2 separate regions of the Homo sapiens genome follow, and region 1 is reported to be linked to region 2. The links are microRNA targets in miRTarBase. Many come from high-throughput screens and were not tested one by one. Region 2 holds a microRNA gene; the other region holds the end of a gene's coding sequence.
Evidence for each region. Region 2 holds the annotated microRNA hsa-miR-3180-3p (UGGGGCGGAGCUUCCGGAGGCC, at 1,704-1,725, opposite strand). A microRNA usually pairs through its seed, bases 2 to 8, with sites in the 3' UTR of a target mRNA and lowers its output. Matches are read on the target gene's strand: a 7mer-m8 pairs with bases 2 to 8, a 7mer-A1 pairs with bases 2 to 7 and ends in A, and an 8mer does both.

Region 1 (3,386 bases), not on the chromosome of region 2:
TGCCCAGCATGGCTGTGGCCAGTACCAAGAGTCGGTGGGAGACGGGTGAGGTACAGGCTCAGTCTGCGGCCAAGACTCCGTCCTGCAAGGTAAGGTCCCCTCCAGGGGCAAGGCTGGGCTGCAGAGCCAGCGCCTGGGAGTTTAGTAGCAGGCCGGGTTTCCTTGTTAAGACAAGCATGGGACTGTCCAGGATGAATGTGGGTATACAGAACCCTGAGGTATTGCAGTAGGGTTGGGTTCACCCTTGCTGGTGTAGAAGGCTGTGTTGTCCGAGTGGAGGTAGATGGCACCTTTATTCCTTTCCCTGCCTCTTCCACTGGGATCACACAGAAAAAGTTTAGGTAGGCAGATCCCAGGCCCCCTGGCCAGGTAAGGCAAGGCGGGAGAGAAGGGCCCAGGGCTTCTACTCCCCAAGATCCAGGGGTCTGCCCTTGTGACATACCCTTCTGCTGCCCCCAGGATATTGTGGCTGGAGACATGAGCAAGAAAAGCCTCTGGGAGCAGAAGGGAGGCTCCAAGACCTCATCAACAATTAAGGTAGAGCCTAAATGTGGTTGGTGCAGGCAGGGTGGGTGCAGCAGGGGAGGGCAAAGAGGGACTGTCCTCTGTGCATCTGGGAGGGCTTCCCAGAGGCGGAGGCAGCATCATCTCCTTTCTGCTGCTCTCACCTTCACTCTTGGTCTCCTTTCCCAACAGAGCACCCCATCTGGGAAGAGGTATAAGTTTGTGGCCACCGGGCATGGGAAGTATGAGAAGGTGCTTGTGGAAGGGGGCCCGGCTCCCTAGGCGTCCCATCTCGGTGAGTCCCTGGCAACTCACAGAAGGGGATGAGGTGCACACACGTGCACTGTGCTGGGAACTTGGCAACCTGGAGGCTGCCTGGAGCCCTGTTGCAGGCTACAAGGGTGGACTCCGAGTTGGCCAGAACCCAGACCAGCTCAGTCTCCCAGTCCTGTGCAGATGCTGCCTCTCTCACCTGATACCAGATTCAAACTCTCTGCTCATTTCACTAGAGTCAGCCCGGCTCAGCCACTGCTCCACTAGGGAAGCTCAAGGCTCCCATCTGGGACTCCCCAAAAGCCACAGCAGGGCTCGTGAGGGAAGTGAGGGGCAGCCTGGCCACCACAGGGCTAGCATTGAAGGAAGCAGGTGGCATGGAGCCCAGGTTCCCTGACCATCTGTATGCTGAGGGTCCATAGAGGGGCAGGAACTTAGGTCCTACTCCCTGTCCCAGCCGAGAGCGATTCAGAGGTCCTGATGCCCTCCCCATCCCATGCTGCAGACAGAGCAGTGCCACTCCTGCCATGGTGAGACACACATTTATTAGTGACCTGGGCCCCAGGCTCCATTTCCAGCACCCATCACACCACAGGGTGGGGCAGCTGTCCTCCTACCATCTTCCCCTGCCAAACCCTGACTCTCAAGCAGCTGTGGCAGAGGCTTTTTCTGGTACCTCTGTGTCCCTCTCCTGTGGTTGGCCACCCCCACCAGAGCCTGGCTGACTGCTGAGTAGGCCCCTCCACTCTCCCCACCAGGGCCACAGCCCCTTCTCTGTCCCGCTTGGCCAAGCTGTTCCCATAGGGTTGGGACTGAGGGCTCCCTCCTCATCCAGCTGTCAAAGCCTGGGCATGGCCAGTGCTGAGACCCTCGCTGTCCCACCAGCGAATCCCTCGAGTTCTGCCCCCTCAGGCTGTCAGCCCAGGTAGGGGAAGCAGAGGTGGGCCGAGAGAGAGGTCACGCTGGGCCCTCCTCCACCCCTGATGAGCCCCTCCCTGCCTGCCCCTGAGCACTTGTATTGGTGCCAAGTCCCACGCTGGCTGAGGGCTCCCCCCTGCACCCTAGTCCCAGGATCTGGCTCTGCCATCAGGAAGCACAGGCAGCAAAACTGCTGACTGCTCCTGACGCCGATGGCCAAGCCAGCCTGACCGCACCCATGCCTCAGCAAGCAGAGATCTGGCCCCAAACCTTTGACAGCAAAAGGTGACAGCAAAAGGGAGGATCAGTGAGAGGCCCAGGCCCCTGAGGAGCCTGGGCTAGGTCAGTAGATGCAGTCCTCTGCCATCTTACCTAAAGTTTTCATCCCAAGGCCCCCATCCTACATCCCGACGCAGACCCCTTCTCTGTTCCCCTCACACCACTGCAGCCCAGGGGCTCCAGCTCGTCCTCTCTGCCCCGTCCACCTGACCACCCTCCTAACCATGCAGACTTCCCTCAGCACCCCATGTGCCCTTCCCAGGCTGCCCTGCACCCCATGCCCCTTGGGCCCTGGTGCATCTTCATGCAGCAACTATGGGCCCCCAGCTAGAGCCTCAGCCCCTTCTTCTGTCCATCCCATGGTCCTGGGCTCTGGGGGCCATTCTGGCCACTTCACTGGAGCCTCCAGCCAGTCGCTGTGCGGTTGAAGTTCTTGGGCTGGGGGCTCAGCTCCAGGATGGAGCGGACTGTGGGAGGGGGCCGGGTGGCCTCCTGCAGCTTCCGGGCGTTGAAGCGAGGCCGGTACAGGAAGGGCAGGCGGGTGAGGCTGGCTGGGGTGTGCTCCCCACCGCTGGGCCCTGCCAGGCGCCCTTGGGCCTCCGCCACTGACATGCGGTACAGCACGGCATCCCACATCCTGGAGGTCCGGGAGGCGGGGGCCCGGGGTGCGGTGAGGGCGGGCACCTCCTGCTCTGTGGGGGCAGGCACCTCCTGCTCTGTGGGGGTGGGCACCTCTGGCTCCAGGCTCTGCCGCGGCTCTGGGCACGGAGGCTCTGGGGCCTCCTCCAGCAGCTGCTTCTTGAGCCACGTCCAGCCACTGAGCCGGGGCTTGGGTGCAACTTTGGGGACAGGGCATGGGTGAGGGCCTGATGGTGGGGTAGGGGATGAGGCCCAGGCAGGGCTGGACACTCGCTCGGCCTCAGCGGCGGGGCCAGCCATCGGGGGCTCCTCCAGGTGCTCTCTGCCAGGGCCCATGGGGACCAGGCTGTGCGGTGAGGACTCCAGCGAGCGGCAGGTCGGGGCTATGGGCACCACAACCCTGGCACTAGCCTCTCTGGGCACTGAGGCCTGGAAGCCGGGTGGCGGCCGTGGTACAGGGGGCTCCTCAGGCAAGGGACTGGCAGCCTGGACTGTGGTGGGCAGTGGGCGGATGTGAGCCACTGGGACCAGGGGCTGGGCCCTGGGGGGACTTGGGGTGGCATCTCCATCCTGGCTGTTGGATCCCACTTCTGGGGCTGTCCTGGGAGGCTCAGGGGTCCCATTGTGTGGGGATGGTGCCAGCTGGATGTGCACCTGGGTGACGTGGGTGCCCCCACCCCCAGAGACAGGGACGAAGCCACTGGGGGGCCGGGTAGGTTCTGGGGCCGAGGCTACAACCTGGGGCCCCATGGCCCTGAATTGAGCAGCTAGAA
Region 2 (3,386 bases):
CCACCCAATGTTTAGCAAGCCTGGGGATGTGCCACGTCCCCCAGGGATCCAGCACGCACCCAAGGAGACACTGTCCCGGCGAGGAGCCTGGAGCCTGGGAAATACAAGGCATCAGACTGGTCCCAAGACTCTCCCCAGCGCTGGGGACAACTGTCTGCTTATCTTAGTCCCCTCCGCCCTTTTCAATCCAACCCTGGGTCCTGGGCACCTCATAGTTCCAAACCCCTGCTATGCACATCCCGGCTGTGATGCCTGGGACAGGTCGTGTCACCTCTCCAAACCTGTTTCCTCATCTGTGAAATGCAAATCTCCACGGTCCCTATGCCTCGGATGGTCAGAGTCAGGATTCCGCATGACGACCCCCAACAGGAGCCTGGCACAGACCTGGCTCTGGGCAGCGTCTCCATAAAGGCCACCTGTTGTTTTTATCTCCCGAAAGCGAACATGACAAGGCTTTAACCCCCCACGGCAATCCCCCCTCACCCCTGTTCTCAGGATAGCCTTGGAACCCAATAGCAGAGCGCCTGAGGCCCTTCATGACCCCAGCCCACCCGCGAGCCCACCTCCCACCCTGCCCCTACCCCTCACACCTCCCGTGGCCAGCCTCCAGCCTCACGGTCTTTGCTCACACCGTTCACCCCCCTTCTTCTGGACCCACCTCATCGCCCCTTCCTAAGCATCAGCCCAATTCTTGCACATCCATCAAATCCTTTTCCAGACACCTCCTGGAACTCTTCCCTGCCGCCCCCTACAGCCATCCCCACCTCTCCGGGTACCCCGCAGCCCCAGGCCGCATCCCAATTCCTCTCCAATTAGCGACTGTTTGTCCTCCCAGCTGAGCGCGGCCTCCGCGCCCCGCCCCCGCTGGCGTCTGCAGAGCCCCCGGGTGGGACGTCTGTCTCCAGACCCGGGGTTTTTCGGCTCCCCGGGGCCGTGCCAACCGCGGCTCCAGGCGTTCCTTATTTAGCAGGGCCGCCGTGCCGCGCCGGAGCCTCGCCCTGGGAGCGTCCTGGCCCGCGTCCTGCTTCCCGTCCCGGGCCAGGGAACGCGCCCACGCCCGCCCGTCCCGCGGCCTCTCCCGGGTGCCGCTGGGCCCGCTACTCACAGCGCTGTGGCGTCCGCGGGGATGCGCAGCGCGGGACCGAGCGTCCGCAGCCCGCGGCCCGAGCAGTTGACGCGGCAGGCGGCGCCGGGCGCTGGGCCGCAGAGGCAGGGGGGCTCGCAGGGCCCGCAGCCGCGCCCGGGGCCCCCCGCCAGCGCCCCGAGCCACAGGCCCAGGCCCAGGGCCAGCGCCAGGCGGGCGGGCGCGGCGGGCGGCATCGTTAGGGCAGCGCGCGCATGGCCCCGCCGTCCCCAGGCCCGCCCGCGCGCGGAGGCCGCAGCTCAGGCGGGGCCCGCGGACGGCATGGCGGGCGCGGGGCTGGATGGGGCTGCGGCCGCGACCTGCTGCTGAGCGACGCCCGCTCGGGGCTCGGGGCCAGGCCGCTCCGGGAGCTCGGCCGCCCGCTCGGACGCTGGCGCTGCAGTGCGGGCCCCGCCGCGGCTCCTCCTCCTCCTCCCCGCGCGGCGCGGGGCGGACGGGGCGAGGGGGGGCGGGGCGGGTGCAGGCTCCGCCCCCTTCGCCACAGCGCGACCGGGCCAGCGATGAGGGACTGGCATCCGGAGGCTTCACCCTCCGCTCCACAGGGTCGGCAGCAGGGCGGGGCCTCCGGAAGCTCCGCCCCACGCGTTCCCGGGGCGCATGCGACGTGGGGCGGAGCGTCTGGAAGCTCCGCCCGTCGCACTGCAGAGTCGGCCGAGGCGCACGAGCTATTTTTCACGCTCCGCCCCGCTGCAGGCTAAAGTGCGTGGGCGGGAAGCGGTGGGCAGGGTGCCATCTGGCTCCGCCCTTCTCCTGTGGTGTGGGCCAGGCGGCGGGTTCCTCCTCCTGCAGCAGCCACAGGCTCCACCCTGATCCTTCTTCCGCGGTGTGGATCCTTCTCCCGCAATCTCCGTGCGCGGCCCGAGTCAGTACCCGCAGCCTCCCGACGCACCCGCTGGCTCCAAGCCTCCCTACCCCAGGTTTCCTGGCTGAGAGAGAGACAGAGGGAGAGAGGGGGAAGAGAGAGAACAGGCAATGGGAGGTTGATGGTGAGAGCTTATTGAAAGACAAGAGGGAGGAAACCCACATCCTTCATTCCCCATCCATTCATTTATTGCCTTATTTATTCCATTGAATCTTCACAGCTCTAGAAAAAGTGTGCTACAATTATTCCCTTTATTAAATGAGGTCACTGAGGCACAGACAGTTTAAGAAATTTGCCAGCAGGGCACAGTGGCTCACTCCGGTAATCCCAGAACTTTGAGAGGGGGAGGAAGGTGGATCCCTTGAGTCCAGGAGTTGGAGACCAGCCTGGCCAACATGGCGAGACCCCGTTTCTACAAAAATTAGCCAAAATTAGCCAAACTGGCTCACGCTTGTAGTCCCAGGTACTCGAGAGGCTGAGGCCGGAGGAGCGTGTGAGCCCAGTAGGCAGTGGCTGCGCTGAGCCGTGATTGTGCCACTGCACTCCCGCCTGGGCAAAAGAGTAAGATCCTGTCTCGAAAAAAAAAAAAATGGAAAAAAGAAAAAAAGAACTGGCTGGGAGTGGTGGCTCATGCCTGTAATCCCAGCACTTTGGGAGGCCGAGGCGGGCAGATCACAAGATCAGAAGTTCGAGACCAGCCTAGCCAACATGGTGAAACCTCATCTCTACTAAAAATACAAAAATCAGCTGGGCATGGTGGCAGGCACCTATAATCCCAGCTACTAGGGAGCCTGAGGCAATAGAATCGCTTGAACCTGGGAGGCAGAGGTTGTGCCACTGCACTCCAGCCTGGGCAACAGAGCAAGACTCCGTCTCAAAAAAAAAAAAAGAAATTTACCAGGTCACACAGCAGGTGGATGGTAAGGCTGCGATTGTATTCCAAACCCAGCTTTTAATTGCAGTCAAATGACAGACTTAAGATTCAAGGACTCCAGTGGAGGGAAGAAACAGCCACAAGAAACTGCTGCCAAATGAGCAAAACAGATTAACCAAGTCTCAATGATTGTTTGAAGGCGGTTGTGGAATAAAATGCAATTGTTTAGAAAGGATTTCTTAAATAGAAAAGACATATGTTTAAAGAAGCAAATTAGTTACCTGGAAATGAAATTCTAAACTATTTGAAAAACCATGGGGGCCGGGCGTGGTGGCTCATGCCTGTAATCCCAGCACTTTGGGAGGCCAAGGTGGGCAGATCACAAGGTCAGGAGTTCGAGACCAGCCTGACCAACATGGTGAAACCCCGTCTCTACTAAAAATACAAAAATTAGCTGGGGGTGGTGCCACGCGCCTGTAATCCCAGCTACTCAGGAGGCTGAGACA

Region 1: the mRNA of LSP1 is a reported target of hsa-miR-3180-3p. The part of its 3' UTR that is shown has no 7-base or 8-base seed match.

Annotation. Positions count from the first base shown.
Region 1 is chr11:1,886,778-1,890,163 of GRCh38, forward strand. LSP1 (lymphocyte specific protein 1) reads left to right here. Exons shown (of 11, transcript NM_002339.3): 8 at 1-89; 9 at 460-537; 10 at 697-799. The coding sequence ends at 786. It overlaps PRR33 (proline rich 33), which reads right to left. Exons shown (of 1, transcript NM_001395380.1): 1 at 1,301-3,386. The coding sequence ends at 2,368. Among named protein-coding and RNA genes, the nearest start is that of PRR33, 3.4 kb to the right of the region's middle. RefSeq lists a silencer at 430-596.
Region 2 is chr16:2,134,370-2,137,755 of GRCh38, forward strand. It overlaps MIR3180-5 (microRNA 3180-5), which reads right to left and starts at 1,760; the gene lies at 1,608-1,760. It overlaps PKD1 (polycystin 1, transient receptor potential channel interacting), which reads right to left and starts at 1,529. Exons shown (of 46, transcript NM_001009944.3): 1 at 1,106-1,529. The coding sequence starts at 1,320. RefSeq lists silencers at 1,458-1,627, 1,638-1,897.